Regions from separate parts of the Homo sapiens genome. Here regions 1, 2, 3, 5 and 6 are each linked to region 4. Evidence: fine-mapped expression QTL. A gene starts in region 4. Each other region holds a variant in brackets. All regions are shown on one strand. Distances are from middle to middle.

What was found. PIP is the estimated chance that this variant, and not a neighbour inherited with it, causes the effect.
Region 1: its variant is the best candidate, but not a certain one, in a credible set for the expression of FRG1 in visceral fat (GTEx, PIP 0.89).
Region 2: its variant is the best candidate, but not a certain one, in a credible set for the expression of FRG1 in whole blood (TOPMed, PIP 0.76).
Region 3: its variant is the best candidate, but not a certain one, in a credible set for the expression of FRG1 in whole blood (INTERVAL, PIP 0.63).
Region 5: its variant is the best candidate, but not a certain one, in a credible set for the expression of FRG1 in neutrophils (BLUEPRINT, PIP 0.55).
Region 6: its variant is the best candidate, but not a certain one, in a credible set for the expression of FRG1 in whole blood (TOPMed, PIP 0.88).

Annotation. Positions count from the first base shown.
Region 1 is chr4:190,012,689-190,017,763 of GRCh38, reverse strand. It overlaps the pseudogene RNA5SP174 and the pseudogene RNA5SP175. Among named protein-coding and RNA genes, the nearest start is that of FRG2, 12 kb to the left of the region's middle. RefSeq lists a silencer at 980-1,177. The variant T/A (reference allele first, on the strand shown) is at 3,087.
Region 2 is chr4:189,968,032-189,973,106 of GRCh38, reverse strand. No RefSeq gene overlaps it. Among named protein-coding and RNA genes, the nearest start is that of FRG1, 30 kb to the right of the region's middle. The variant C/A (reference allele first, on the strand shown) is at 2,559.
Region 3 is chr4:189,980,893-189,985,967 of GRCh38, reverse strand. It overlaps the pseudogene TUBB7P. Among named protein-coding and RNA genes, the nearest start is that of FRG1, 43 kb to the right of the region's middle. The variant TG/G (reference allele first, on the strand shown) is at 1,973.
Region 4 is chr4:189,938,385-189,943,459 of GRCh38, reverse strand. It overlaps FRG1 (FSHD region gene 1), which reads right to left and starts at 2,588. Exons shown (of 9, transcript NM_004477.3): 1 at 2,389-2,588; 2 at 188-258. The coding sequence starts at 2,450. FRG1-DT (FRG1 divergent transcript) reads left to right here and starts at 2,727. Exons shown (of 4, transcript NR_149039.1): 1 at 2,727-3,801. RefSeq lists an enhancer at 1,783-2,282.
Region 5 is chr4:189,914,305-189,919,379 of GRCh38, reverse strand. The region is part of intron 2 of FRG1-DT (FRG1 divergent transcript); the gene reads left to right. Among named protein-coding and RNA genes, the nearest start is that of FRG1-DT, 24 kb to the left of the region's middle. The variant A/G (reference allele first, on the strand shown) is at 1,990.
Region 6 is chr4:189,961,881-189,966,955 of GRCh38, reverse strand. It overlaps FRG1 (FSHD region gene 1), which reads right to left. Exons shown (of 9, transcript NM_004477.3): 8 at 5,024-5,075; 9 at 3,764-3,863. The coding sequence ends at 3,827. Among named protein-coding and RNA genes, the nearest start is that of FRG1, 24 kb to the right of the region's middle. The variant A/G (reference allele first, on the strand shown) is at 2,864.

The sequences.
Region 1 (5,075 bases), 74 kb before region 4:
GGCCCGACTCTGCTTAGCTTTCAAGGTCAGTCGAGATCCCGTGCGTTCAGGGTGGTGTGGCCGTAAAGGCCGGCAGTGGCGGCTGCTCGACTCCTGGCGTCACCGCCACCCCTGGGCCGCGGGGCTCAGATCCGGGGCCCCAGAACCGCTCCCCCGCGGCCGGGCTGCTCTCGCCATCAAGGTCCCAGCACCGCCGGCCGCCGCGCTGCGCCTTCCGCCGGCCTCCCAGAGCCACCCCCGTCGCCTGCGGCCAGAGAACGCGCCGTGGCACCGCCCTGCTGCAGCGCGGGAGAGCCAGAGACCTCAGTCCCCTGCCCAGGCTCCAGGCACACCAGGTGGCCTCCCTTTTCGCAGACGCTCCAGGCCTTCCCCGGCTTGGGAGCTCCCAAGCTTCCAACACATCTGGCCGGCTCAGGACGGGGTGTGCTCCGAGGCGTCAGGGCCCAGGGCCAACTGTCCTGGGATCCCCTCCGGTCCTTCGTCTTGCCGCAGAAAAATTGTTTTGGATCCCTCGCCGCCCCTCCTGCAAGGCCCCCTCTTGCCCCACACACCCAGAGCCGTCAGGGCTGTCCAGGGGCAAACAGCCGGCCCAGCCCTGAGGGCCCTTTTTCTCACAACGCCCACACCATTGTCGCTTGTCCCAACGAGGACTCGCCCCGTTGGCCAAGGCCCTGCTTTGCCCCGCGCTGGCACTAGAGCCCCCGCAGCCTGATCCCGGGGGAGAGGGGCTGATGGGCCACCCAGACACACCCCACCACCACGAGCAAACCCACCCCGACACGCACACAGATACACACGGGAGCACGCGCGCGGTCACACACACACGGACACACACGGAGACACACACGGGCACACACACACGGACACACAAAGACACAGACACAGACAAAGATAGCTTGAAGTAAGGGAGGAGACCACCCCTCATATTGTCTTATGCCCAATTTCTGCGTACTGAGACTAACACAGCAACTGTGACACCCATGCGCTGGCGATAGAGTAGGCAGCCTGATCCCGGGACAAAGTTACTGACGGACATCCAGACACACCCCACCACAATCACGAGCAAACCCATTCCCAAACAGACACACATGGGCGCACCGCTTTTAGTAAAAACTAAAAGGCAGAAATGAAATCCATAGGCAGACAGCCCGGTGTCACACCCTGGGCCTGGTAGTTAAAGATATACCCCTGACCTACTCGGTTATGTTGTCTATAGATTACAGACATTGTATCGAAAAGCACTGTGAAAATCCCTGTCCTGTTTTGTTCTGATCTAATTACCGCTGCATGCGGCCCCCAGTCAGTACCCTCTGCTTCCTCAATGGATCACGACCCTCTCACGCAGACCCCCTTAGAGTTGTAAGCCCTTAAGAGGGACAGGAATTACTCAGTCGGGGAGCTCGGTTTTTGGAGACATGAGTCTGCGGATGATCCCAGCTGAATAAAGCCCTTCCTTCTACAACTCGGTGTCTGAGGGGTTTTGTCTGCGGCTCCTCCTGCTACAGAAGGAGAGGAAGGGAGAGAGGAATGGAGAGATAGAACCAGAGGGAGAGAGAGAGACAGCGATAGAGAGAGAGAGAGACAGAGAGTGGGGGAGGAGAGAGAGAGAGAGAGGGAAAGAGAGAGCGCGACAGAAGAGCGCGAGGTGGAAGGGGAAGTAGAGAAAGGGAGAGGCTGAGGGAGTTGCAGAGCGAGAGCGACAGAGCCTTGGAGAGGGAGGCTCTGCTCAGGTAGACAGGCCCCCTTTGAGCAGGCCGGGGTGGGGTGGAGGGTGCTTAGGCCGGGCTAGAACAGGGGGTCAGGGCCCCCCATGCGGGAAAACCAACGGAGCCCTGAGACGTGTTTTTTCTTGGATTGGTTGTTTGCTTTGGGGGTGCGTTTCATAGGGTCCTTCCTTTGTTTGCTTCTTTCTGTCTTCTCGATGCGGTGGCCCCCCAGATTTGTAGATGCGCCCATCCGTCTGGCGAGAGCCCTGGCTCTGAGCCTGTCCACGGGGCCAGGCCTGGGTCTCTCTCGTGTCCTCGGGACTGGAATTTACACGAAGTCGGTGGCAAAGTGCACAGGGACGGATTTCCTCACGGCTGGCGAGGGCAATGTCCTTCCCCCGGGTAAAGCAGCCCACGGGTTCCGGAGCGGAGGTCTCGGCTGGCGTCTGTGGGACCCGCTGCCCCTGCCCGCCCCTTCCCCCGGTTTGGACCGTCGCAGCGGCGCTGGATGAATGAATTGCCTGGGCTTCCGGGGAGCGTGAAAGACACCCGGGACCTCAGGGAACCCGCGCCTGCGCCCTCGGGGTCGGTCCAGTCCGCCTGGGTTGGAGCCCGGCTCCTGGTGGGGCTGCGGCGAGTCGGAAAAGGTGGGATGCTGCTGCCTGGCGGTGCTGCAGTGGCGGATCTTCAGGGGGAGGTCCTGGGCTTCGGCTGGGGCGCAGGGGCGGACAGGGTGGAGGGAGGGGGCGGTTGGGAAGCACGGAGACAAAACGGGGAAAGAGGGAGGGAGCGGGAAGCCAAAAGCCTACGGTACCCGCTATTCCCAGGCGGAATCCATCCAAGTACTAACCAGGCCGGACCCTGCTTAGCTTCACGAGCTCAGAGGAGCTGGGGCGCGCTCAGGGTGGTGTGGCCTAGACACCGGCAGCGGCGCCTGCCCGCCCCGACAGCCCGGCCCAGCCACGTCCGCCCGGCTCCAGGCGTCACCGCCACCCCGGGGCAGCGGGGCTCGGATCCGGGACCCCCAGAGCCGCTCGTCCGTGCCCCCGGGCAGCTGTCTCCCTCTACGCCCGAGCACCGCCGGCCTCCCAGAGCGTCCCGCCGTCGCCGGCGGCCAGGCCTCGCGCAGGACCAATGTGGCGCCGCCCTGCTGTTGCTGGGGGGCGTCCTAGGCCTCCGTGCCCTGCCCAGGCTTCCGGCTCTCGGGGCGGCCTCCCTTCCGCCCACGCTCCAGGGCGTCCCCGGCTCCCGAGCTCCGAGCTCCACCACATCGGCCGGCTCAGGACGGGTGTGCTCATCCCTTCACTTTTTAACTTTTTGTTGTTTCTATTTATATTTTATTGTGCTATGTCTGGAAATGTTGTAGCTATTACTTTTGAT[T/A]GGATATTATTTAGTATTCCTACTTTGAATAAGAGTAGTTTGCACATCCCACAGCTACAGCGTTATAATATTCTGTTTTGTTTTGTATCCTATTAGCACTGAGGATTTTTTTTACCTTTAGGTGATCATTTATTGCTCATTAATGTCCTTTTCTTCCTGATTGAAGTACTCTCTTTAGCATTCCTTTAGGACAGACATGGTATTCATAAAATACTTCAGCTTTTGTCTGGAAAAGTCAGTATTTCTTCTTTTTATTTGAAGAATATTTTCACTGTATATGCTATTCTAAGGTAAAAGGTTTTTTTTCCTTTAGTACTTTAAATATTTATTGCTTCTCTCTCCTGGCCGGTAGGGTTTCCACCGTAAAGTCTGCTGCCAGAGGTGTTGGAGCTCACTGTTATGTTCTTTGTTTCTCTTCTCTTTCTTCCTTTAGAACTTTTCTTTATCTTTGACTTTTGGAAGATCTATTGAATGCTTTGAAGTAGTCTTTTTTTGGGTTAAATCTGCTTAATGTCCTATAACATTTTTGTAGTTGGATATGGATATCTTTCTCTAGGTTTGGAAAGTTTTCTGTTATTATCCCTTTGAATAAATTTTTCTACCCCTGCCTCTTTCTCTACATCTTCTTTAAAACCAATAACTCTTAGATCTGTCTTTGTGAGGCTATTTTTCTAGATCCTGTAGGCATGATTTGTTGTTTTTATTCTTTTTCTTTTGTCTCTTCTGACTACGTATTTTCAAATAGCCTGTCTTCAAGCTCACTATTTCTTCTGCTTGATCCATTCTGCTATTAAATGGCTCTAATGCATTCTTCAGCATGCCAATTGCATTTTTCAGCTCCAGAATTTCTGCTTAATTTGTTGTAAATTTTTCAATCTCTTTGTTGAGTTTAGCTGACAAAATTTGGAATTTCTTTATTTTGTTATCTTAAATTTCTTTCAGTTTTTTTTTAATACAGCTATGTTGAATTCTCTGTCTGAAAGGTCACATATCTCTTTTTCTCCAGGATTTGTCCCCGGTGCCTTATTTAGTTCACTTGGTGAGGTCATGTTTTCCTGGATGGTGTTGATGCTAGTAGATGTTATTCAGTGTCTGGACATTAAATTCTTGGGCATGCAGCACCATATGAGAGGTTTAAAAAATAAAATTAAAAAAGAGAAAAGGTGAGTATTTATTGTAGTCTTCACTGTCTGGGCTTATTTGTAGCTGTCTTTCTTGGGAAGACTTTTCACATATTTTAAAAGACTTGGGTGTTGTGATCTAAGCCATATCTGCTTTATGGGTACCTTGTACCCAATAATGCTGTAATTCTTCCAGACTCAGAGAAGTACCACCTTGACAGCCTTCAACAAGATCCAGGAGAATTTTCTAGATTACTAGCCAGAGACTCTTGTTCTCTACCATTATTTTCTCTCAAAGATACAGAGTCTTTCTCTCTGTTCTAAGCCACCTAAAGCTGGGAGAAGAAAGACACAAGCACCCCTGGCCACCACCACTATGACTGCCCTGGATCAGACCTGAAGCTAGCACAGCACTGGGTCTTGCTCAAGTCCTGCTGCATGCACTTTCTGATGACTGCCTATGTTCACTCAAGGCCTTTGGTCTCTACAATTAGCAGGTGGCAAAGCCAGCCAGGCCTGTGTTCTTTCCTTTAGGGCAGTGAGTGCCCTCAGTCCCTGGCTGGGTCGAGAAGTGCCATTCAGAAGTCAGGGAGTAGAGTCAAAAGTTTTAGAAGTCCACCTGACATTCTATTGCATTGCAGCTGACCTGACACTCAAACCACAAGACATAGTCCTTCCCATTCCTCCCTTCCTTTCCTAAAGGCAGAGTAGCCACCACCACCTCAGGCCACAATGAGTACTGCCAGGCTACCACCAATGTTCCCTTAAGGCCCAAAACCTCTTGTCAACTTGCGATGAATGCTGCCTGGCCTGGGACTTGCCGTTTTCAGGGCAATGGGCTCCCTACTGGCCCTGGGCAGCTTCATAA
Region 2 (5,075 bases), 30 kb before region 4:
CAGGCTGCTATAATTATGTAATACCCAGTTAAATTTCAATTTCAGATAAACAAAGAATAAGTTTTAGTATAAGCATATCCCAAATATTGCATGGGGTATACTTACACTGAAAAAAGTATTTGTTTATCTGAAATTTAAAATTAACTGGGCATGCTATATTTTCTGTGGCAACCCTGTTTTATAGAGAGCAGAGTAAGTCAGCTAAATTTTAGAATACTTTAACCTGGTGTTCTAGGTCTTTCCTTTTTGTAATTATTATTATTATCTGGAGTCAGGGTCATGCTCCATCACTTAGGCTGGAGTGCAGTGGCACAATCACAGTGCCCTGCAGCCTTGAGCTTCTGGGCTCAAGTGATTCTGGCACCTCTGCCTTTGCCTCCCAAGTAGCTAGTACCACAGGTACGTGGGCCCAGCTAATTTTTTTTTTTTTTTTTTTTTTTCCCCGTAGAGACAGGGTCTCAGGGTGGTCTGGAACTCCTGGGCTCAAGCAATCCTCCCACCTCTGCCTTCACTTCCCAAATAGCTGAGACCACCGGCACATACCACCACCATACCCAGCTTATTTTTTATCAGGTTGGTGCAAGAGGAATTGTGGGTTTTGCCATTGAAAGTAATGGCAAAACCTGCAATTACTTTTTGTATCACCCTAATAATTTTTTGTGGAGACAAGGTCTTGTCCTGTTGTCTAGGCTGGTTTCCAAGTCCTGGACTCGAGTGACCCTCCTGCCTTGGCCTCTCAAAGTGCTGGGATTACAGATGGGAGCCACTGTACCAAGCTACTTTGTATAATTTTTAACATAAATGTAAATGTTTTGAGAACTAGAAATGTTAAAACCCTTGGAGGAAAATGTAAAGTATACAATAGAAAAAAAAATACAAAAAATTATCAATTTTCAGAGGAACAAAAAATATCCAGTTTTTACAATCTTCAGGATTCAATCCCATTATATCAAACATACCAAGAAACATATTCAAAGAAAAAGGCAATCAATCGAGACTGACCTCGAGACGACCGAGATGTTGGAATTAGTATGGATTTTTTAAAGTAGTTATTATAATTCTTACTAAAATCAAAACCCCAAAAACTCTTATAATAAATGGATAGAAAATCACAGCAGAGAAGAAGAAACTACAGTAATAACAAAGCCTCAAGTGGAAATTCTAGAAGTGAAAAATTTTTCAAAATTAAAAAATAATAGTTGTGTTCAGGAGCAGCTTGGAGGTGGTAAAGAGTCAACCTTAAAATACAATTGAAATTATTCAATCTGAAAAATGTGAGCAGTCACGGGTTGAGGTGAGGGAGTTTTCCTTTGGTTAGTGCTTTTAGGTAATCTTGGTTTTTTTTTTTTTTTTATTGATCATTCTTGGGTGTTTCTCGCAGAGGGGGATTTGGCCGGGTCACAGGACAATAGTGGAGGGAAGGTCAGCAGATAAACAAGTGAACAAAGGTCTCTGGTTTTCCTAGGCAGAGGACCCTGCGGCCTTCCGCAGTGTTTGCGTCCCTGGGTACTTGAGAGTAGGGAGTGGTGATGACTCTTAACGAGCATGCTGCCTTCAAGCATCTGTTTAACAAAGCACATCTTGCACCGCCCTTAATCCATTCAACCCTGAGTGGACACAGCACATGTTTCAGAGAGCAAGGGGTTGGGGGTAAGGTCACAGATCAACAGGATCCCAAGGCAGAAGAATTTTTCTTAGTGCAGAACAAAATGAAAAGTCTCCCATGTCTACTTCTTTCTACCCAGACACAGCAACCATCCGATTTCTCAATCTTTTTGATAAGATTACTAGATTGATCTGTCAGGGGCATGCTAAGCCAGAATTTATCTTGGTTTCAGTAGTGCTTTAAACAAAACTCATGATACCCTTGTGTTCAAGACAGAAGAAGAGTGGGCCAAATTAAATATTTAGATGCAGTCATTCTTAACCTCTGTTGCTCTCCCAGTGGTCTAGCTGGGGTTTGTATAAAGTGGAATGGGAGGAACAGGGAAGGAGCCCCCACCTACCCTCTCCCCTTGTCCACTTGTCCTCCTTGACTAGTGGATAAAGTCCACGGGAACAGGCAAGTTATTTTCAATCTGTATCTTCTGTTAAGATCTGTAATCAGTTCTGCTTGCTGGACTGGGGACAGGAACCGAGGGAACATGAGGGTGAACGAGGTGACATGGAGTCCAGGAGCACACTGTGCCTACATGCAGAATGTTTGTGCCAGGAAAGCCAGCAGCAGGCAGATGGTCTCAGATAGCAAGCTAGTGTTGGGAAGCAAGATTCAGTCTCTTGAAGGCGTGTTCCTCAGTGTGTGGTTTGTATCACTTGCTTCAGAATGACCTGGAGTACTTGTTAAAATGCAAATTTTCAGCCCAATCCTAGACCTCCTAAGCCTGCATCTCTACGGATGGGTCTCAGTAGTCGATATTGGAAACGGGCAGGTCCCTAGGAGATGCTTATGCATATAAATTTGAAATGTGTTTAAGGTTTAGGGAGCTGGCAAAAGCAAGGAATAGACCAAGCCCTTGGGTGGGAAGCCTCCACAACGTTGGCACTATTAGCATTCGGGG[C/A]GGAAGAGGATTCTGCCACATGCTTCGCAGCATCCCTAGCCTCTACCCTCTAACACCGTATCCCAGTTGTGAAAACCAAAAATGTCCCCTGGGAGGCAAAATAGTCACTAGTTGGGAACCGAAACCACTGCTTTGTATCAGAGTAGTTACTTTGTTCCTAATCCAAGGATCAGAACACACGATGAGAGAAAGTCTAGCTATGGGAACTGGAGTGCCAAGTTGGAGCTAGACCTACAACAAAAGCACCAAAAGCTCCTTTATAGGGCTGATTCCGTGCCTCAGCTACCTAGCTTGTACAAATGCCATGTAACTCTAGATTTGATGACAGAAGGCATTTAAAGGCTAGAACTAGTTAGGGTCTTTCAGATTAGGCCAGCACACAACGTGGACTTTTGACAACATCCAGATGCTTGAACCAAACTCAGTCCTGAGGCAGAATTTCCCGTGGCATCTGATACACAGCCTGGATTTGGAGCACTCACTAGGATTAGATGCCATGGGAATATTGTGTTTAGGAACTCTGAAAGAGACAGGCTTCAACAAAGCAGACCTAAGCAACACGTAGCGTCTTAACTTTTTTTTTTTTTTAACAGAAATGTTCAGAGCACCTTTATTTGTAATAGCCTAGAACTAGAAACAACCCAGATATCCTCCAATGACTGAATGGTTAAACAAACTGTTCTATATCGCCACTATGGAATTTTTTTTTTCTTTATTGTACTTTAAGTTTTAGGGTACATGTGCACAACGGGCAGGTTTGTTACATACGTATACATGTGCCATGTTGGTGTGCTGCACACATTAACTCTTCATTTAACATTAGTTATATCTCATATCGCTATCTCTCCCCCCTCCCCTGACCCCACAGCAGGCCCTGGTGTGTGATGTTCCCCTTCCTGTGTCCAAGTGTTCTCATTGTTCAATTCCCACCAATGAGTGAGAACATGCTGTGTTTGGTTTTTTGTCCTTGCAATAGTTGGCTGAGAATGATGGTTTCCAGCTTCATCCATGTCCCTACAAAGGACATGAACTCATCATTTTTCGTGGCTGCATAGTATTCCATGGTGTATATGTGCCACATTTTCTCAATCCAGTCAATCATTGTTAGACATTTGGGTTGGTTCCAAGTCTTTGCTATTGTGAATAGTGCCACAATAAACATATGTGTGCATGTGTCTTTATAGCAGCATGTTTTATAATCCTTTGGGTATATACCCAGTAATGGGATGGCTGGGTCAAATGGTATTTCTAGTTCTAGATCCCTGAGGAACCACCACACGGACTTCCACAATGGTTGAACTAGTTTACAGTCCCACCAACAGTGTAAAAGTGTTCCTATTTCTCCACATCCTCTCCAGCACCTGTTGTTTCCTGACTTTTTAATGATCACCATTCTAACTGGTGTGAGATGGTATCTCATTGTGGTTTTGATTTGCATTTCTCTGATGGCCAGTGATGATGAGCATTTTTTCATGTGTCTGTTGGCTGCATAAATGTCTTCTTTTGAGAAGTGTCTGTTCATATCCTTTGCCCACTTTTTGATGGGATTGTTTGTTTTTTTTCTTGTAAATTTGAGTTCATTGTAGATTCGGGATATTAGCCCTTTGTCAGATGAGTAGATTGCAAAAATTTTCTCCCATTCTGTAGGTTGCCTGTTCACTCTGATGGTAGTTTCTTTTGCTGTGCAGAAGCTCTTTAGTTTAATTAGATCCCATTTGTCAATCTTGGCTTTTGTTGCCATTGCTTTTGGTGTTTTAGACATGAAGTCCTTGCCTATGCCTATGTCCTGAATGGTATTGCCTAGGTTTTCTTCTAGGGTTTTTATGGTTTTAGGTCTAACATTTAAGTCTTTAATCCATCTTGAATTAATTTTTGTATAAGGTGTAAGGAAGGGATCCAGTTTCAGCTTTCTACATATGTCTGGCCAGTTTTCCCAGCACCATTTGTTAAATAAGGAATCCTTTCCCCATTGCTTGTTTTTGTCAGGTTTGTCAAAGATCAGATGGTTGTAGACATGTGGCATTATTTCTGAGGGCTCTATTCTGTTCCATTGTTCTATATCTCTGTTTTGGTACCAGTACCATGCTGTTTTGGTTACTGTAGCCTTGTAGTATAGTTCGAAGTCAGGTAGCATGATGCCTCCAGCTTTGTTCTTTTGGCTTAGGATTGACTTGGCAATGCAGGCTCTTTTTTGATTCCATATGAACTTTAAAGTATTTTTTTCTATTTCTGTGCAGAAAGTCATTGGTAGCTTGATGGGGATGGCATTGAATCTATAAATTACCTTGGGCAGTATGGCCATTTTCACGGTATTGATTCTTCCTACCAATGAGCATGGAATGTTCTTCCATTTGTTTGTATCCTCTTTTATTTCATTGAGCAGTGGTTTGTATTTCTCCTTAAAGAGGTCCTTCATGTCCCTTGTAAGTTGGAGTCCTAGGTATTTTATTCTCTTTGAAGCAGTTGTGAATGGGAGTTCACTCATGATTTGGCTCTCTGTTAGTCTATTATTGGTGT
Region 3 (5,075 bases), 43 kb before region 4:
AATAAATTACTAATGCCAAGTACCAATCACAAGAGTATAACTCAGCACTTTCATGATTCTTTTCACCCTAGAAGGGATTCTTTGTTTCTGTTAATGTCTCACTTGTTTATAGGGGTAAATCTTTTCAAGACACTAAAACAGGTGACTCAGCACTGTGAGCTCTGTGCCTGACATGACCCAAACGGCCAGCAATTTTCTCCTCCAGTTAAACCTGTCCAAAATTAAGGAACCTATCCAGGTGAGAACTGGCAACTCTAATGTACCCCAATGACTTTCTGCAAGAGATTCAAATATTTGCTAATGCTTACTGATACCTTCACTGGTTAGATCGAGGCATTCCCCACCCCATCTGAAAAATGTTTACCAGAAGAAATAACTCCTCAGTTTGGGTAATCTAAAAGCCTGCAAAGTGACAATGGCCCATCTTTCACAGCAGGCGTAACCCAACACCTATCCTCAGCTTTAAGAATCCAATATTACCTTCACTCTGTGTGGAGACCGCAGTCCTCTGGAAAGGTGAAAGGGCTAATCCTAAAGAAGACTCTAGCTAAATCAGAGGCCTGACTATCTCTAACACCCATAGCTTACTGCAGATTTGAACTGCTCCAAAGTAAAACGTATAATTAAGTCCTGTTAACATGTGGAAGGCCTTTCCTAACGACAGATCTCCTAATAGATGAAAAGATTCATCAATTACAAAAATATGTCATCAATCTAGGACAGGTGCAAAGGCACTCCGTGCATATGGAAACAAGCGTCTTCCCCTCCCACATGGGAGGAAAATTCAGTTTCAGCTCAGCTAGGGATTTAGTCTTACTAAAGACGTGGGAGGAAGTTCTCCAGCTGAGCAGCTTTCCCCAACGTGGAAGGGACCACGCAAGGACACCTGAGTTCTCCAACAGACGTTCAACGCCAGGGGAGTCACAGGTGGGTGCACCTGTGTGGAAGTAAAGCTGTTGCTTATTCTGGGAGCCCAATCCTAGGCTGAGGGAGGTGGGCGCGGGGCTGTTTAAGCGTTGGCGGAGGCCGGGCTGGGTCGCTGTGCGTCTGCTCCTCCTTCTCGCGCTTCTCCTGCCGCCCTAATCCTGCCTTGGCCACGAGGGAGCTTGTGCTCACGCAGACCGGGCAGTGCGGGAACCAGATCGGCGCCAAGGTTGGCAGCCGGGGCTCTGAGGGCCCAGCCCGGGCCTGCCGGGTGGCCGGGGAAGATGTTGGCAGCGGCGGGGGCGGTGCCCCTGCATTGCGGCCCCTGGGCTCCCTGCCGGGGACGGTGGAACCGGGTGGCTGGCGAGGCGGCGGGGGTGGACCCCAGGGACAGGGCGGCCTGGGGATGGGGGTGCGGATGGGGGTGGGAGAGCGGCTGGGGCGCCTCCGTGACTCAGCCCCGGCCTGTCTGGCCCCTCCCGTCTCCGCAGTTCTGGGAGGTGATCTCTGATGAACATGCCATCGACTCCGCTGGCACCTACCACGGGGACAGCCACCTGCAGCTGGAGCGCATCAACGTGCACCACCACGAGGCCAGCGGTGCGACCCCCGTCCTTCCCCCACCGCCCTCCTGGGAACGCGGCCCTCCCCTCGCTCATGCCCTCCCGCCCCACGCAGGTGGCAGGTACGTGTCCCGCGCTGTGCTCGTGGATCTGGAGCCGGGCACCATGGACTCTGTGCGCTCGGGGCCCTTCGGGCAGGTCTTCAGGCCAGACAACTTCATTTCCCGTGAGCTGCGGGCGAGGACTGGGGTGCGGCTCCTTAGCCAGGGCAGCTCGAAATCCAGGAACGCTCCAAGGTCATCCTGTGGGAACTGTGGCGCCAGGGCCCCTGAACACCCTCCTGTCCTCCGAGTCGAGTCGCTCCATCTGCCTCCTAAACGGGCTTCGGGAGGAAGGCCCGCGTGTCTCCTCAAGGTGAGGAGCTACTGATGTAAACTCCCTGCAAGGACCTGAGCTGGGGCCGTGGCTACTGCCTTCCCTGAGAA[TG/G]GGCCACCTGCAGCGAGGTCTGTGAACCCGTCTCAGGTTCGACTCCTGACTTAATTCCTAACAGGGGAAGCTGCTGTCCTGTAACTCCTGGGGAGGGGGTTTCATTTGTTCCACCTGCAGCGAGTTCTGTGAGCCCGTCTCAGGTTTGACTCCTGTCTTAATTCCTAACGGGGGAAGCTGCTGTCCTGTAACTCCGGGGGAGGGGTTTTCATTTGTTCCACCTGCAGTGAGGTTAGCCCCTCTCAGGTTTGACTCCTGACTTAATTCCTAAGAGAGGGGAAGCTGCTGTCCTGTAACTCCGGGGGAGGGGGTTTCATCTGCTCCACCTGCAGGGCGAATGGTGCTCTCACCTCACACGTGACACTTGGCCCTTTCTGCATTATGGTGGTGACCACTGATGACCGTATACCTGGCCGTCGAGTGACCGGCTGTGCTGTCTTACAGGTCAGTGTGGGGCCGGAAACAACTGGGCCAAGGGACGCTACACCGAAGGCGCGGAGCTGACGGAGTCAGTGATGGACGTTGTCAGAAAGGAGGCTGAGAGCTGTGACTGCCTGCAGGGTTTCCAGCTGACCCACTCCCTGGGTGGGGGGACTGGGTCTGGGATGGGTACCCTTCTCATTAGTAAGATCTGGGAGGAGTACCCAGACAGGATTATAAACACATTGAGCATCCTGCTCTTGCCCAAGGTGTCAGACACCGTGGTGGAGCCCTACAACGCCACCCTCTCAGTCCACCAGCTCATAGAAAACGCAGATGAGACCTTCTGCATAGATAACGAAGCGCTATATGACATATGTTCCAGGACCCTAAAACTGCCCACACCCACCTATGGTGACCTGAACCACCTGGTGTCTGCTACCATGAGTGGGGTCACCACGTGCCTGTGCTTCCCCGACCAGCTGAATGCTGACCTGCGGAAGCTGGCCATGAACATGGTCCCGTTTCCCCGGCTGCATTTCTTCATGCCCGGCTTTGCCCCACTGACCAGCCGGGGCAGCCAGCAGTACCGGGCCTTGACTGTGGCTGAGCTCACCCAGCAGATGTTTGATGCTAAGAACATGATGGCTGCCCGTGACCCCCGTCACGGCCGCTACCTAACGGCGGCTGCCATTTTCCAGGGTCGCATGCCCATGAGGGAGGTGGATGAACAGATGTTCAACATTCAAGATAAGAACAGCAGCTACTTTGCTGACTGGTTCCCCAACAACGTAAAAACAGCCGTCTGTGACATCCCACCCTGGGGGCTAAAAATGTCAGTCACCTTCACTGGGAACAACACAGCCGTCCAGGAACTCAAGCGGGTCTCAGAGCAGTTTACAGCAACGTTCAGGCGCAAGGCCTTCCTCCACTGGTACACGGGCGAGGGCATGGATGAGATGGAATTCACTGAGGCCGAGAGCAACATGAACGACTTGGTGTCTGAATATCAGCAATATCAGGATGCCACGGCCGAGGGAGGAGGAGTATGAGGAGGAGGAGGTGGCCTAGAACTCTCCTTTTCTAGGTAAAGGGGGGAAGCAGTGTGGATCCTTCACTGTGTTCTGACAGCCATGTGTCACTATGCGCTCGTTCATTTGTGTCTTCACATCTCCTGCTGCATTTTAAAGCATTTTTATAGTATGCGGTTTTGCCTAATAAAGTATTCTCACAGCATCTGGTTTCACCTCCAACTTCTATGGGCCCTCTGGCTACTGCTGCCAGATGTGCACAGTTGTCCTGCAAGGCGGAAGCTGTCTGGGTTCATCACATGCCCAGGAACAAGCATTCCAGTGGCTCTAGGAGGGCTCGGCATGGGCTGTGGACATGGCAGGCAGGCGCCACATGAACTTGGGGATGCCCTGGGCCTTGGGCAGCGACGTGGTGGAAAGCCTGTTCCTGAAGAAAAGCCTTGGCTTATCCCATGTACCAAACTTTTAGGGGACCAGTTGGCCATGTGTCTGGAACTTTAAAAGGGCTCAGCGACCCTGGTGGACAATGTCCCCAAAGTCCCATCTCGGGGTAGGAATGTGGTCAGACAGCTGGCTCTGAACCAGCAATGAAGGGTGGGCAAGTGGGACCCCAGGCACTCCATCACCAAGACGGTCTGGGTGTGTTTGTGTGGCCTCATTCTCTTCACGAGGTGGGCATGGGGTATCTGGCAGGGACTAGGCAGGAATCGAGCCCAGTGTCTGCTAACATGCACTGAACCCTATGTAGAGGGGGATTAGGTCCTGGGGGTCGTATATGGTGGTTGCTGGGCCTGTGTGCTCAGGGCAGTCTCTCCAAAGGCACAGATGGGGTTTCTGAACAGGACCTGGGAAGACAGGCAGGTGCTCACAAATGCTGCTTCCCCCAACTGGCAACCAGTGAGAAAAACGCCCAAGTGGAGGTCTGACCTGCCCCAGTCTGGAGGGCTGATGCTCTCTGGAAAGATGGGTGATGTGCAGTGTCTGCTGTCTCCCTGTCCCCCACTCCAAAACCTCAGAGCAAAGATAATCCAAGATTGCCAGGATGAGCCTGGTGAGGGTGGCACCTTTTTAGGGATAGGCCCTTCAGACTGGCAGAGTCTCCTCCCCAAGCTTCTCGGGGAGCCTGGACTGCAAAGCCCGCTTTGGGGAAGCTGTCAAATAAGAGGTGTGTGTGTGAGCTGGGTGCTGGGCAGCAAGCACGGACAGGGCTCTTCTCCCTGGCTCTTGTAGAACTTGTCCATGGTCTGTGTGATGACCCCTTGGTAATTCCCACCGCCACCATCACACAGATAAGATGAAGCCAGCACAGCCTGGGGGTGGGCAGATGAACAGGTTCTACCCCAGGTCCCCTGGGAATGTCCATCTGCCTCCGACGTGTCAGGGAAAACAGGTGAGGCCCCTTCTTGTTCTCTGAATGTTGTCAATGGTCTATTGCAGCCAAATGGGAACAGACAGGCAGCAGAGTGTCTCATCTCGAAAGAAGTGGCTCCTGGAAGCAGCTGGGAGGTGGGAGAGGTTCCCCACACTCCCCCAACCTCCCCCACACTCCCCCAACCTCCCCCACACTTCCCCAACCTCCCCCAACCTCCCCCAACCTCCCCCACACTCCCCCACACTCCCCCACACTCCCCCACACTCCCCCACACTCCTC
Region 4 (5,075 bases):
AATGAAGTAAAGGCATCAGTAGCATCTACTGTGTTAAAGAATAAATGGAATTTATAACTGTAGGTAATATTTAAGCACTTTAAGACAAATATGAATACATCATAAATTTCTAACTAGGAAAACACTTTCAAGGAGATCTCAAGAAACATTAACTTTTTTCAGAATAGAGCACTGAAAACTGACTCACCAACAATATCAAGCTGGGTTTCTTCATCTTCTTCTCTTTTTCTTTTCTTATCTTTGCTCTTTTTCTTCTTACTACAGGACATAATTTATATAGACGAGTTTAGGTATATTGATTTGTACGATAAATATTGTAAGATTGAAACTTGAAAGTCTTTTAAGCTGTTTCATTTATAAATTATTGATTTAGGAAGACTTACATTGATATGCCCTCTTAAATACAGTACTGAGAAGTTGCTTCAGGCTTTGCACATATTACGTTAGAGTTCAAAGCAGATTGTAGAGCCACACTGCCAGATTTTAAATCCTGATTCTTTCACTTCTTAGCTCCGTGATTTTTGGAAAAGGTACTGAATCTCTCTGAGTCAGTTTCCCCACTTAAAAAATTAGGATAGTAACTTAACCTAACTCTTAAGGCTATTGTGAGGATTAAGAGGTAATATGTACCTTCACACATTCCTGGTGGAAATGTAAAATGGTGCAGCATCTACAGGAAACAGTTTGGGGTTCCTCAAAAAGTTAAAGTTACCACATGACCCAGCAATTTTACTCCTAAGTATGTATACCCAAGGGAAATGAAAACATACACCCACAAAAATACTTACATAAGAATATTCACACTAGCATTAGTCACAATAGCCAAAAAGGGGAAACAACCCAAATGTTCATCAGTTGATGAATGGATGAACAAAATGATACATCCATACAATGGAATACTATGCAGCCATAAAAAGGAACAGGCGCTACAACAATGATGAACCTCAATAATGTTATAAGTGAAAGGAGCCAGATACAAAAGGCCACATGTTGCATGATTTCTTAGGAAATATTCAGAATAGGCGATTTCACATAGAGAGCGGATTAGTGGTTGCCAAGGACTAGGAGAGGGGGAGGATGGGATGTGACTGCTTTAATGGGTAGGGGGAGATTTCCTTCTGAGATGATGAAAATGCTGAGCAACTAGACAGTGGTGAACCTCTTGAATATATACTAAAAACCCCTGACTGTACAAAAGGGTGAATTTTATAATTATGAATTATATCTCAATAAAAAAATAAAAAACCAAGAGTGATTTGAAAAAAAGTTAATGTGCAAAGTGCCTACAACAATTTCTTGGCACATTGACAGTGCTATATGAGCATTAATTATGATTATTACGATGATCTTAAGACACCCGTGTCTGCATTTTCATTATAAAGTTTTCAGAAGATAACTCTCCTCTCCTCCCAGGAAATTCACAGAGTAAAAATCTCACATTCATTCAGGATAAACCTGCCATTTATTCTGGCATCTTCATGAGGCCAGACTCCTCGAGAGGGTTCTCAAGGCCAGTGGCTTCAACTCACTCCTTGATACTTTCTATCTCGCCTAAAAATATCAAAACCTCTGTTTATCACGGAGACCAGGAGGAAATACTCGACATTTGTATGTACCTCGGGCAAATCTGCCAGTTAAAAAAGAAGCGGGGATATGAGTGCACAGGTATTTTTTCCTAAAAAGCTAATAAATTACCATTACGACCTCCTCCTCACATTTGGCTCAATTTATTTTCTGCATATATGTTCTCTCATTTAATCCTCACAGTCTTCTAAAAGTATAAAAAACGTCTGAAAGTATAAATGTGTAAACGGAGGTTCAGATATTTGATCTCTTAATGAGTAAATGGAAGTTCAGACATATTAACCAATTTGCCACAAATTACAAAACTAGTAAATGACAAGAGTGCAGGTTCGAGCCCATATCCCTAAAGCCCATATACACCTCAACCACTGTGTGATTCATCCTGGTTTCACTGTACATATTAGATTAGAAAAAATTAATAAGTTTTCTAGAAAGAAAAGAGACAATGGAGAAAATAATAATCCCTAATAAAGGAAATTATCATGAACTACGAGATCAGACTAATGCAGACCCCCCAGGCAGAGGCCTGGAGAGATGCCTCAGGGGACCCAAACTCGTGGGTACGGGGTCACGGGTCACCTGCCCGTCTATCCTGTTTCCAGGGTCGTCCGCGCGGGAGGCTGCCCCTCTCTGCACAGACGCCGGGAACCGCGGCCCGGCCTCCGTCCAGCCCGGACAGGGGCCAGGGCGAAGCCTGGGAGGCCACAAAGCCGGCTCTCCGCGCCACGGCTTCCACCGGAGTTGCGGGGGTGGAGTGCGTCCGAAAAGAACGGAGGAGGCTCCCGCCCAAGCTGCAGGACCCACCTCTTCGTCTTGGTTCCCTTGAGCACGAGCTTGGTAGACTTCACGTAGGAGTACTCGGCCATGGCTCCGGGAAACTTCTGCGCGGAGAGGCTGAGGCCGGTTCTGGACGAGTATGTGAGTCGGGGCAGCACAGGGGCGCGGAGAAACAGAAGCGGACGCGAAATAAACACTCCCTGACAGCCTACGTCTCTGTAGAACCCGCCTCCGTCTTCACCCAAACGCTGAATGGCTCAGAGTTCCACTTCCGGGTTTCTGCCGGGGAGCTACGGCGGCCGCAGAGGGCCAAAAGGCATCCGCGCGCAGCTGCTCCCTGGCGCCCTCTCAAGGAGCCCCTGAGGATTCGCGCCTCCCGGAAGGGAGAAAAGCCCGCCCGAGGCGCGGTGCTGACGGTGGCTGGGCTGCCGGGTGCGCTGTGGAACCGCCTCCTGCTAGAGCAGCGGGCTGGCGACGGTCCTCGCCGGGGCGGGAAGCGGCTCAGGCTGCCCTCGCTGGCCTGCGGCGGCGCGGCTGGAAGCGCGGGCCACTCGTGCGTGGGTCACTCAGGACTGCGCCTCGCGCGACTGTGTGTGCAGGAAACAAGCAGGAAATACCCTAAAAGAGAATGAAGCGCCATGTTGAGGGTCGCGGACGTCGCGAGTGCTGTGGGAATGTGGGCTGAGGTGGAGAGTTATGGTAGCCCGTGTTACAGGCTCAGGGGTCTGAAAGAAGCCTAATCGTGGAGGCGGCATCTGAGGAGGGTCTTGAAGGCTGGGCAGGCATTTGCCCGACAGAGATGGAGGAAGCTAGTCCTGTCTGATGGAGGAAACAGGGCGGAGGCGTGGAGGGAGCCGTGCAGCGCTGGTGTGAGGAGCAGCGAGCAGGCCAGGCCTGTAAAGCAGAGTGAGGGAACCAGGATAGAGAAGGCAAGTCGGGGTCCTGTGGTCGCTGAAGAATTTGAATGAAATCAGTAAACAGGTGAGAGGGATCCATCGCAAGAGCATGGGATGAAAGGAGGAGTAGTCCACGGTGATTCCTCTGCAGCGGTGGGTGTTATTAATCGCGTATGTGACACCAAAACCACCCCACTCAAGCTGTGGCTCTTTCCCTAAAGTAGAAAACCGAGACCAGTTGGGTTCCAAGCATCCACGAAGATCTTATTAAATTCGTGATCCCTGGTGGCACCATGGAGTCAGGATTGGCTCATCTCAAACCTGACTCAGAAACAAAACCGTCACAATGTGCAGAGATGAGCGTCCTTACCGCTATCAACGTATTTTCTGGTGTTTTCACAGTGCTGCGCTTCCTAATCCCCATTCCATGGCAATCCACATGCCATGATGCCCGGAGTCATTAACAAAGGAGACACACAGGGGCTCCTCACGTTGGCTTTCCAGGGTTTTGATGAAAATCTGTTTCCTCGTCTCATACAATGTGGTTAGTAATAGTATCATTTAGGGTTGAAGAATTAAATGGTACGAGTTATATAGGGTGCTTATTATAACCTACATGGAAAATGCCTAGGATATGTTAGCTATGCTCATCACCAACATCGTTATATGATGGTAATAATCAGATAGTCAGGAAGCCTGACACCAAGAAAATGGATACATGCTCTGAAGGAATGAATGTGGAGAGATCAGAAGGTCAAGAACAAAGTCGTACAATATGTCTACAGTAAAGGGATAGAGAAAAGAAAGGCTATAAAAGAAGGAATGAAACAGAGTTAAATTATAGAAATCAAAGCTAAGGAGAATTTCCAGAAAGGGTAGTATCATTTAATATCATAGAAGTTTAGGAGCCCAAGATGGAAAAAAGGCCTCTGGGTAACTGACATTGAGGCAGTCTTTGGGGAAGCTCCATTTCCGATAGAGAAGTAGACTGAAAGTCAGCTTGAAGCAGGGACTAGGTGAAGAAGCTGTTGGCTGGTCGCATGGGGAAATAAATAAGGGATGGCATATGCCGTATTTCTGGATTTCTTTCTTTCTTGCCCAGCCTCTATATATGCACAGAGTTTGGCGAAAACTTACAAAAAATAAAAATGAAACCAATTTCGTTTGTAGACCCAAATACAATGCTTTCTGTTAGAATCAAGATAAATTCATGCCTCTCCCTTCTATTCAAACCGTCAGTTTTGAAATTAAACATCAGCTTTTCTTCTTCATTAAAATCATTTTCAGCTCTTCCCATTGATGGTTTGGGGGAGTTGCATAAGCAGTCAGGTCTTGATGAGTAGAGGAGGAGGGAACAAACACTTTCAGCAAAGGCAGAATTCTGAAATTCTGCTCATATTTTTTTCCAGTAACTTTCCTATGTTTGTGAGGTTATTCAGTCATAAAGATCCTAGTGAAATGTTTTTCAAGCTTTACTAATCATAATCACTGTGGACATTTGTTTAAAATGTGTATTCCCAGGCCTCTCACCTGGTGATTCTGATTCAGGAGATCATGGATGGGACTCAGCATACATGTGTTTGACAAGTATCACAAGTGGTTCTTATGGTCAGGCAAATTTGGGAAACTAACCAGGAATTTATGTTTTTATGACTGGCAGCTAGAAAAGATTCCTAGAGTCTTTGCTTTTTGAAAATAAAATATTTCTTTTTTAAAAGGAAAATTGTATGACTAGATACAGCATTTATACATGTGATAAATGTACTATACTGTGTGCTTTTGTCATATTTACAGTTAAAGATGTGTAAGAACACTCTG
Region 5 (5,075 bases), 24 kb after region 4:
AAAAATAAACTTTCTTTTATCTTTATAATATAAGGTAATTTTTACAACTTGGAGCAAGATTAGGCTCTTACTCTCTCATAGAGACTGGGAAATAAGGTATTATCTTTCTGGAGGATTACATTTGAAAGGGATGGCTCCCAGATCCTTGAAAAAGGAAATTTTCTGCTAACAAGTTACACATGCCACTTCTACCTACATTTCACTGGCCAAACCGGTCACATGTCTAAATCTGACCCTTACTTCAATAGGACAGAAATGTATAATCTTCTAGGAGATAGGGCCACTGCAGTAGGAAGACCAGATAATGGGAGAATGGTAATATAATCTACCACATTGACCACAATGAAAACATTAGTAATCCCCAGGGTTAAACCGAGTCTTCTTGGACACTTAGGTTGATTCTAGGCTATTGTGAATAGTGGAATAATAAAAAATAAAGAGAATAGCCCCTTTATTTATTGCAGAGAAGCTAGACAATTCACAGTAACTTATGGCCTAGACAATTTTATTTCTTGATCAACACAACTCTTTATAGATGCCTGTGGTCCAAAAATGCGGATTCCTAATCATCCCCAAGAAGAAAGGATCCACTGCAAGGCAACCTGGGAGGGAGTTTGGGATGGTTCTGAGGCAGTGAAAGCCATTGAAATTCACACGTAAGAGGGTAGAGAAAGGGAATTCACATGTTTTGGTCCCTCCATGTGCTGGATATAACTTGGTCTTCATTACATTGCACCACCTTTGGTGTCAGAGAGAACTGGATTTGAATCCCAGTTCCATCACTCACTATGATTTGATGGTCAATGTGTTTTTAACTCGTCTGAGCCTCAGTTTGCTCATCTATAAAAGATGGGATTGTTACGAGGCTTGCATAAGGTAAGTGTATAAAAATCTGGGAATAATGCCTATAATTTAATAGACGGGGTTGTGATGAGGCTTCAATAAGGTAAGTGTGTAAAAATCTGGACACAATGTTATTAATTTTGTAGGTTTTCAATATATAGAGAAGGAGGATTATTTTTCTCTCATTTAATTTTTAGAACAAGTTTATAAAATTGGTATTATTCATATTTTTGAGATAAAGGATCAGTAAGTTTAAATAAATCACCATAGTCACAAAGCAGTTCACAATATATTGACTGGACAATTGCTAGTGAAAAGTAGCAATGATGATCACATTGAAAATCTTGTGTTAGGTGGTGGTTTTCTCTTGCATAAGCCTCTTCATTTGTTCAAACCATAGATTCTAAGTTGCTCTATTAAAGTGATCATTAGAAAAATATAATGTACTTAGTGTATAAGTTTTAGAAAATTTCCTTTGTTAGTCCTGTTAATTTGATTGAATATGTGCATTTTGAATTATGAATATAAATATGAATATGTATGATATATGAAATATGACTTGACGTCACAGAGTAACATTAGGTCGTGGCAATGTTTTTTTCTGAAAGCACCTGCAGAAATGTGTCTTCTTTCTAGTTTCCAAAAAACTCAGAGGCCATGGGGGAAGAGGGGACTTTGACTGTCAGATAGTGCATGAGGTACATTAGCATACAGTAATTTAATCATAATTCATATTCATAATTCACAGTGAGGAAACCTGAAAGTTGCTACCAGCTACCAATAAATGAAAGGTGGGGCGGCATCACTGGGGGGCGCGGTTTTGTGAGCCAGTGCCTGGACTTCCACATCACAAATGGAAGGGCAGCACGTGGAGGGAACTCAAGGCCTGATTGGTTCTTCCTAAGCAGTACGCGATCTGGCTGGCAGGGCAACCGGCCTTCCGTTGGTGGCCTTCAGTTAGTGCCTTCAGTGGGTGCCTTAAGTTGGTGGCATTTGGTTGCCTTTCCTGGGGAGAGGTGGCAGGTGCTCAGCTCTGCAGACGTGGGGGCAAGCGAAGGCCCAAGCTGCCTCGAGAAGAGCAGAGGTGCCCCATGGGGACCACGATGACGAGTTGCATGTGCACCAAAGCCAGCCCCCGGCAGGGTC[A/G]GCGCAGGGATTCTGCGGGGCCGTCCTGTGGCTCTGACATCTATGAGTGGGCGGCCAGCAGAGGCACAGGCACCAGCAGAGAGGAGCAGAGACGCCCAGAACACACTGTCCCCCAATGCCAGCCCCAAGCGGGGCCAGCTCAGGGTGCGGTGGGCAGAGCCATCCTGCAGCTCTGAGATCCGCAAGGTGGAGGTGGGAGTAGCGCCAGGCTCCACTGTGTTGGAGCTTGCCCCGTTTGAGCCCAATTTGATTCCGGAGCCATGACCTGCAGCACATTGGCGACCAGAAGACACCCAAAGGTAAGGAGGCGACAGATACCGCTTGGCCTCAGGACCTCCTCTGGCCATTGCTGAACCAAGGTTCCCCCAGAGACATCCACAGCCTGGGGCTCCTCCCTTCTTCACCTAGTTCCTTTCCTAGGTCCAGGCCCCAAGCATGAGGACTGGCTCTGCCTGGCGTCCCCACCCCTTCGTCTTCCCCTTTTGCATCCAGCCGGTTTCTTTTTCCCTCCCTACCCAAATGCCCAATTCTGGGTCCTTTTGTTCCCAGAGGCTGGCCAAAAACTAAGTTTTCAAAATACAAAATGGATGCTACAGATTTCGTTGCTGTAGAGGAAATGTCTGGCAGCTCTTGAATTTAAGCTTAAGTAGCTACACTGGGATTCACAATTTCATATCTTGAGTTCTAGACCAGAGCTCTCTACCCTAAAGCAATGACAGGGGGTTAGAGGTACTCTTCTTGATTCTAATAATAAAAAATGATTTTTTTGTAGGGACAAGGTCTCACTGTGTTGCCCAAGCTGGTCTCAAACCCCTGGCCTTAAGTGATTCACCCACCTTGGCCTCCCACACTGTTGGGATGACAGGCAAGAACCACCACACCTGGCCATTGGAGGTGCTATTGCTTTGTGTGGTTGGGCTGGTCTTCAGGCACAGCTGTCAGTAAGATCCTCCTGCGGTATAGTTCTAAGTTTTTCTGCACAAATTCAGTGGATCCTGTGATTTTTTTACATGGAATAGCCCCTTTATTTTTTGCAGAGAAGCTAGACAATTCACAGTAACCTATGGCCTAGAAAATTTTATTTCTTGATCAACACAACTGTTTATGGATGCTCGTGGTCCAAAAATGCAGATTCCTAATCACCCCCACGAATAAGGGGGCCATTGCAAGGCACCTGGGAGGGAGTTTAGGATTGCTCTGAGGCAGTGAAAGCTATTGAAATTCCCACATGAGGGGGCAGAAAAGGGAATCCACATGTTATGATCCCTCCATGTTCTGGGTGTAACTTGGTCCTTGTTAAATTGCACCATTTTTGGCATCAGAGAGAACTGGATTTGAATCCCAGTTCCGTCCCTCATTATGATTTGATGGTGAATGTGTTTTTAACTCGTCTGAGCCTCAGTTTGCTCACCTATAAAAGATGTGATTGTTGCGAGGCCTCCATAACATACATGTGTAAAAATCGTGGCAAAATGCTTGTAATTTAAAAGAGAGGGTTGTTAGGAGACTTCCATCAGGTAAGTATGTAAAAACCTGGACACAATGCCTATAATTTTGTAAGTGTTCAGTATGTGGAGAAGGAGAATTATTTTTCTCTCATTTAATTTTTAGAGCAACTTTATAAAATTGGTGATACTTATATATTTGAGATAATCAAACCAAGGATCAGAAAGACTAAATAAATCACCATAGTCACAAAGCAGTTCACAATACATTTACTGGATATTTTCTAGTTAAAAGTAGCAATGATGATCACATTGAAAATCTTATATTATGTGGTGGTTTTCTCTTACATGAGCTTCTTGGAATTTAGTAAGATAACTTGCAGCTCAAAAAGCAGATCCGTAGAATATTTTATTCAAGAGATTGTAGTGGGGGCCAAAGTATTGCATGAGTTTTGTTGGGAACAAGGTGTAGGCTGAGAATCTTAGCAAACTTCAGTTGGTGGTTTTCAGCTGGTGGGCAGTGGTGGAAGGAGGAGGAGCTCCGTCTGTGCTCTCTCTTACCCCAGTCACAGCCCTCAGGCTTGTTGCATCCAGGCCCTTCTGAGTTAAACCCGACAGGTTGACAGGTTTATTTAGCATTTAGCAGACAAGTCAGCTCAGGGTAGGCAGGTAAGGTGGGGTGTAGGCTGCTAGTACAGTGCTGCCCTGTGGCCCAGGGCTGCCCATGCCCGTGGGGCTATTCCATATATTATATATTATATATATAAAATTATATATATATAAAATTATATATATATAAAATTATATATATATGTATATAAGCCTGTTGGTTTGTTGAAAGCATGGATTCTAAGTTGCTCTATCAATGTGATCATTAGAAAAATGTGATGTACTTAGTGTGTAAATTTTAGAACAATTTCTTCTGTTAGTCTTGTTAATACTCAGTTCTTTTCTAAAACACCTAGCCCAAATCTCCATAGGTTTTAATCGAATTATATTATAATTTGGATTTTCTGGTCTGCCTATCTTCCAAACAATAAACTCCTTAAAATCAATTTTCTATTGCTGCCATAACAAATTACCACAACTTTGTGGCTTAAATCAAAGACTTACGACCCTATAGTTCTGTAGGGCAAACCTCTGACCGTGGTCTTACTGGGCTTAACTCAAGGTATTGTCAGGGCTGTATTGCTTTCTGGAGGCTCTAGAGAGAATCCATTTCCTTTTCCAACTTGTAGATGCTGTCCCCATTCCTTGGATCATAGGACCATCCCTCTATCTTCAAAGCCAGTAATGTGGGATATCTGTGACCATTGTTCTGTGGTCATGTCACCTTCTGACTGCAGCTAGGAAAGATTCTCTGATTTTATATTCTGTGGTCATGTCACCTTCTGACTGCAGCTAGGAAAGATTCTCTGATTTTATAGACACATGCAATTAGATTGGCCCCCAAGATAATCAAGGATAATCCCCCTAACTCAAGGATTAATCACATCTACAGAATCCATTTTGCCCCATGTAAAGTAATATGGTCACAGATTCCAGGGACTAGAACATCTTTATGGGGTCATTATTTTGACTGTCACAAAGGCAAAGTCTTGGACTTACTCATATCTAGATTTTCTTTGCTTAATTTCAGAG
Region 6 (5,075 bases), 23 kb before region 4:
TTCTTCATTAGTCTTGCTAGCAGTCTATCAATTTTGTTGATCTTTTCAAAAAACCAGCTCCTGGATTCATTGAGTTTTTGAAGGGTTTTTTGTGTCTATTTCCTTCAGTTCTGCTCTGATCTTAGTTATTTCTTGCCTTCTGCTAGCTTTTGTATGTGTTTGCTCTTCTCTAGTTCTTTTAATTGTGATGTTAGGGTGTCAATTTTAGATCTTTCCTGCTTTCTCTTGTGGGCATTTAGTGCTATAAATTTCCCTCTACACACTGCTTTGAATGTGTCTCAGAGATTCTGGTATGTTGTGTCTTTGTTCTCGTTGGTTTCAAAGAACATCTTTATTTCTGCCTTCATTTCGTTATGTACCCAGTAGTCATTCAGGAGCAGGTTGTTCAGTTTCCATGTAGTTGAGCAGTTTTGAGTGAGTTTCTTAATCCTGAGTTCTAGTTTGATTGTACTGTGGTCTGAGAGACAGTTTGTTATAATTTCCGTTCTTTTACATTTGCTAAGGAGTGCTTTACTTCCAACTATGTGGTCAATTTTGGAAGAGGTGTGGTGTGGTGCTGAAAAGAATGTATATTCTGTTGATTTGGGGTGGAGAGATCTGTAGATGTCTACTAGATCTGCTTGGTGCAGAGCTGGGTTCAATTCCTGGATATCCTTGTGAACTTTCTGTCTTGTTGATCTGTCTAATGTTGACAGTGGGGTGTTAAAGTCTCCCATTATTATTGTGTGGGAGTCTAAGTCTCTTTGTAGGTCTCTAAGGACTTGCTTTATGAATCTGGGTGCTCCTGTATTGGGTGCATATATATTTAGGATAGTTAGTTCTTCTTGTTGAATTGATCCCTTTACCATTATGTAATGGCCTTGTCTCTTTTGATCTTTGTTGGTTTAAAGTCTGTTTTATCAGATACTAGGATTGCAACCCCTGCCTTTTTTTTTCCATTTGCTTGGTAGATCTTCCTCCATCCCTTTATTTTGAGCCTATGTGTGTCTCTGCATGTGAGATGGGTTTCCTGAGTACAGCACACTGATGGGTCTTGACTCTATCCAATTTGCCAGTCTCTCTCTTTTAATTGGAGCATTTAGCCCATTTACATTTAAGGTTAATATTGTTATGTGTGAATTTGATCCTGTCATTATGATATTAGCTGGTTATTTTGCTCATTAGTTGATGCAGTTTCTTCCTAGCCTCGATGTTCTTTACAATTTGGCATGTTTTTGCAGTGGCTTGTACAGGTTGTTCCTTTCCATGTTTAGTGCTTCCTTCAGGAGCTCTGTTAGGGCAGGCCTGCTGGTGACAAAATCTCTCAGCATTTGCTTGTCTGTAGATTTTATTTCTCTTTCACTTATGAAGCTTAGTTTGGCTAGATATGAAATTCTGGGTTGAAAATTCTTTTAAGAATGTTGAATATTGGCCCCCACTCTCTTCTGGCTTGTAGAGTTTCTGCGGAGAGATCAGCTGTTCGTCTGATGGGCTTCCCTTTGTGGGTAACCCAACCTTTCTCTCTGGCTGCCCTTAACATTTTTTCCTTCAACTTTGGTGAATCTGATAATTATGTGTCTTGGAGTTGCTCTTCTCAAGGAGTATCTTTGTGGCATTCTCTGTATTTCCTGAATTTAAATATTGGCCTGCCTTGCTAGATTGGGGAAGTTCTCCTGGATAATATCCTGCAGAGTGTTTTCCAACTTGGTTTCATTCTCCCCATCACTTTAAGGTACACCAATCAGACATAGATTTGGTCTTTTCACATAGTCCCGTATTTCTTGGAGGCTTTGTTCGTTTCTTTTTATTCTTTTTTCTCTAAACTTCTCGCTTCATTTCATTCATTTGATCTTCCATCACTGATACCCTTTCTTCCAGTTGATCAAATCGGCTACTGAGGCTTGTGCATTCATCACGTAGTTCTCATGCCGTGGTTTTCAGCTCCATCAGGTCCTTTAAGGACTTCTCTGCATTGGTTATTCTAGTTATCCATTTGTCTAATTTTTTTTCAAAGCTTTTAACTTCTTTGCCATTGGTTTGAATTTCCTCCTGTAGCTCGGAGTAGTTTGTCTGAAGCTGCCTTCTCTCAACTCGTCAATGATTCTCCGTCCAGCTTTGTTCCGTTGCTGGTGAGGAGCTGTGTTCCTTTGGAGGAGGAGAGGTGCTCTGATTTTTAGTTTCCAGTTTTTCTGCTCTGTTTTTTCCCCATCTTTGTGGTTTTATCTACCTTTGGTCTTTGATGATGGTGATGTACAGATGGAGTTTTGGTGTGAATGTCCTTTCTGTTAGTTTTCCTTCTAACAGTCAGGACCCTCAGCTGCAGGTCTGTTGGAGTTTACTGGAGGTCCACTCCAGACCGTTTGCCCAGGTATCAGCAGTGGAGGCTGCAGAACAACAGATATTGGTGAACAGCAAATGTTGCTGCCTGATTGTTCCTCTGAAAGTTTTGTCTCAGAGGAGTACCCGGCCATGTGAGGTGTCAGTCTTCCCCTACTGGGGGATGCCTCCCAGTTAGGCTACTCGGGGGTCAGGGACCCACTTGAGGAGGCAGTCTGTCTGTTCTCAGATCTCCAGCTGCTTGCTGGGAGAACCACTACTCTATTCAAAGCTGTCAGACAGGGACATTTAAGTCTGCAGAGTTTTCTGCTGCCTTTTGTTTGGCTATGCCCTGCCCCTAGAGGTGGAGTCTACAGAGGCAGGCAGGCCTCCTTGCGCTGCAGTGGGCTCCACCCAGTTTGAGCTTCCCAGCCACTTTACCTACTCAAGCCTCGGCAATGGCAGGTGCCCCTCTCCCAGCCTCGCTGCCGCCTTGCAGTTTGATCTCAGACTGCTGTGCTAGCAATGAGCGAGGCTCCTTGGGCGCAGGACCCTCCAAGCCGGGCGC[A/G]GGATATAATCTCCTGGTGTGCCGTTTGCTAAGAGTGTTGGAAAAGCGCAGTATTAGGGTGGGAGTGGCCCAATTTTCCAGGTGCCGTCTGTCACCCCTTTCTTTGACTAGGAAAGGGAATTCCCTGACCCCTTGTTCTTCCTGGGTAAGGTGATGCCTCGCCCTGCTTTGGCTCATGCTCGGTGCACTGTACCCACTGTCCTGCACCCACTGCCTGACACTCCCCAGTGAGATGAACCTGGTACCTCAGTTGGAAATGAAGAAATCACACGTCTTCTGCATCGCTCACGCTGGGAGCTGTAGACTGGAGCTGTTCCTATTCCCTTACCAGCTTCCATTCCAGCCCACAAGGACAAAGGCATCACATACATATCCACTGTGGCTAACCTGTCCTCAGCAGGGAGTTTCCCCAGTACTACTCTCCCCTCTGTTCTGAGCCTACTTGCTCCTTTGTAATGTTTCTGCTTTCTGTCCCACTCCCTAATAGATGATTTGTCCTCTCTGCCCAGCCCCCTAGTTCTGATATTTGGATTGTCTGTGATCTGGGTAGTACTTAGAAGGTAGAACCAAAGCCTTGTTGATTGGATTGGGAGTTTCTAACTTCTATTAAAGGCACTGATTAAGCATCTATTATATAAAGTAAAGTAAGATTATGATCCAGTAAGACAGATTCCACAAGTAGCGCAGGAAGAATTGGTTTCTAGTACACTTCATGCTTCAGGACAGGAAATCCAGAAAAAAATTCTGTGGTACATTAAGTGTGAACTGTAAGTTTCATTTCCATGTGAAAAACTGTAGTTAGCTAAAAAGTACATCCATGAAGAATCCTGATTAAACTTGTTTAATCCTGGTTAAACTAGCTAAACAATAATTTCACAACTCAAGAACTCTGTAAAAGCATTTCCTCTGAATATTTTATTCAGAAAAAAACACAGAAAGATAAGGCAGAAACAAAAATCCCAGTCACTTGCAGTATCTGTCGGCTTTCAATTTGGCTCTCCTGTTTAAACAAAGAAAAATAAAATTAATCTATGTAAAACATGCCATATATATTCAACTGCTACTAAATATAAAAAGCTTTAAAACTGTGTGTTCAATTTTGGTTATTACCACAACACTTTTATTAAAATATGTATACTTTTAAATTTGGTTTCTATAAAAAATGGATTCTAATCTTATAAAAGTTATTTCCTAATATTCAATAAATGTTGCCTAAGGGCTTTTTCAATCCAAATAGCAATTTTAATTATTCCGGAATTTAAGGCTGCTCTAAATTTCCATTTAACAGGGTGAGAATGCTGTATTATTACAAGTGATAAAAGTTACAGGACATAGAGCTTATTCCGTTTTAGAGTCCACATCCTGATTATATTTTATATCCTCTTCTTGATTTCTTACAATGAGATACATATTCATTTGCTCAGCTGGAAAAAATTCTTAACATTATTTACTGACTTTAGGTATGAACACTACCAGCTAGTTAACAGGAAATACGTAATTAAACATTGCCTTTATCAAGTAATGTAAAAAAAAGGGTAAGAGTAACTTTGCAACATACGACTTGAATGAGCGGCTGGTGATTATCAAAATCTGGCACTTAATTGATTTATACTTGTACACTCACAGCTAAACGTCTCTGTTTTTCTATGTCATAAATCTAGGACATTACTTATCTACCTAGGAAGAGTAATAAATATTAATAATGTGGTATGATAAACATCCTGCACTCTTCCAAATCTTATAATAAAACTGCTTCAATTTCACTTGTTTAGCTTTTATACTTAGTTTTTTAGTTGATCTATTCTTATTTTAAGGAACCTGAACTACTCTAACAGAATCCACATAATTTTTATATTAGTCAAACTGCTTCTAACTCTGGTTCTAATAGTTATAAAAAGATGATAAATTTATGAAGTAGATACAGTCAAACCTGAATTTCTTCAAGTATATACTTAGAATCGGTTATAATTTTTAGATATTCTTTCATGACAGTCTTTTCCCAAACTTACGATGTCCTCTTTAGGTAATATTGCCACACTCATAAATTAGAAATAAAGACAAAAATGTGAAAAACTACAGTAATTTAAGAGAATGTAGGTTTTCTACATGCCATTTCTATTGGCTACTGAAAATAGTGGAAATAAGTAAATAAATAGCTACCTGTCCAGAAGCGTCTCATGCAAAAATCCATCTTTCCGAGCCTTTTTAAGAA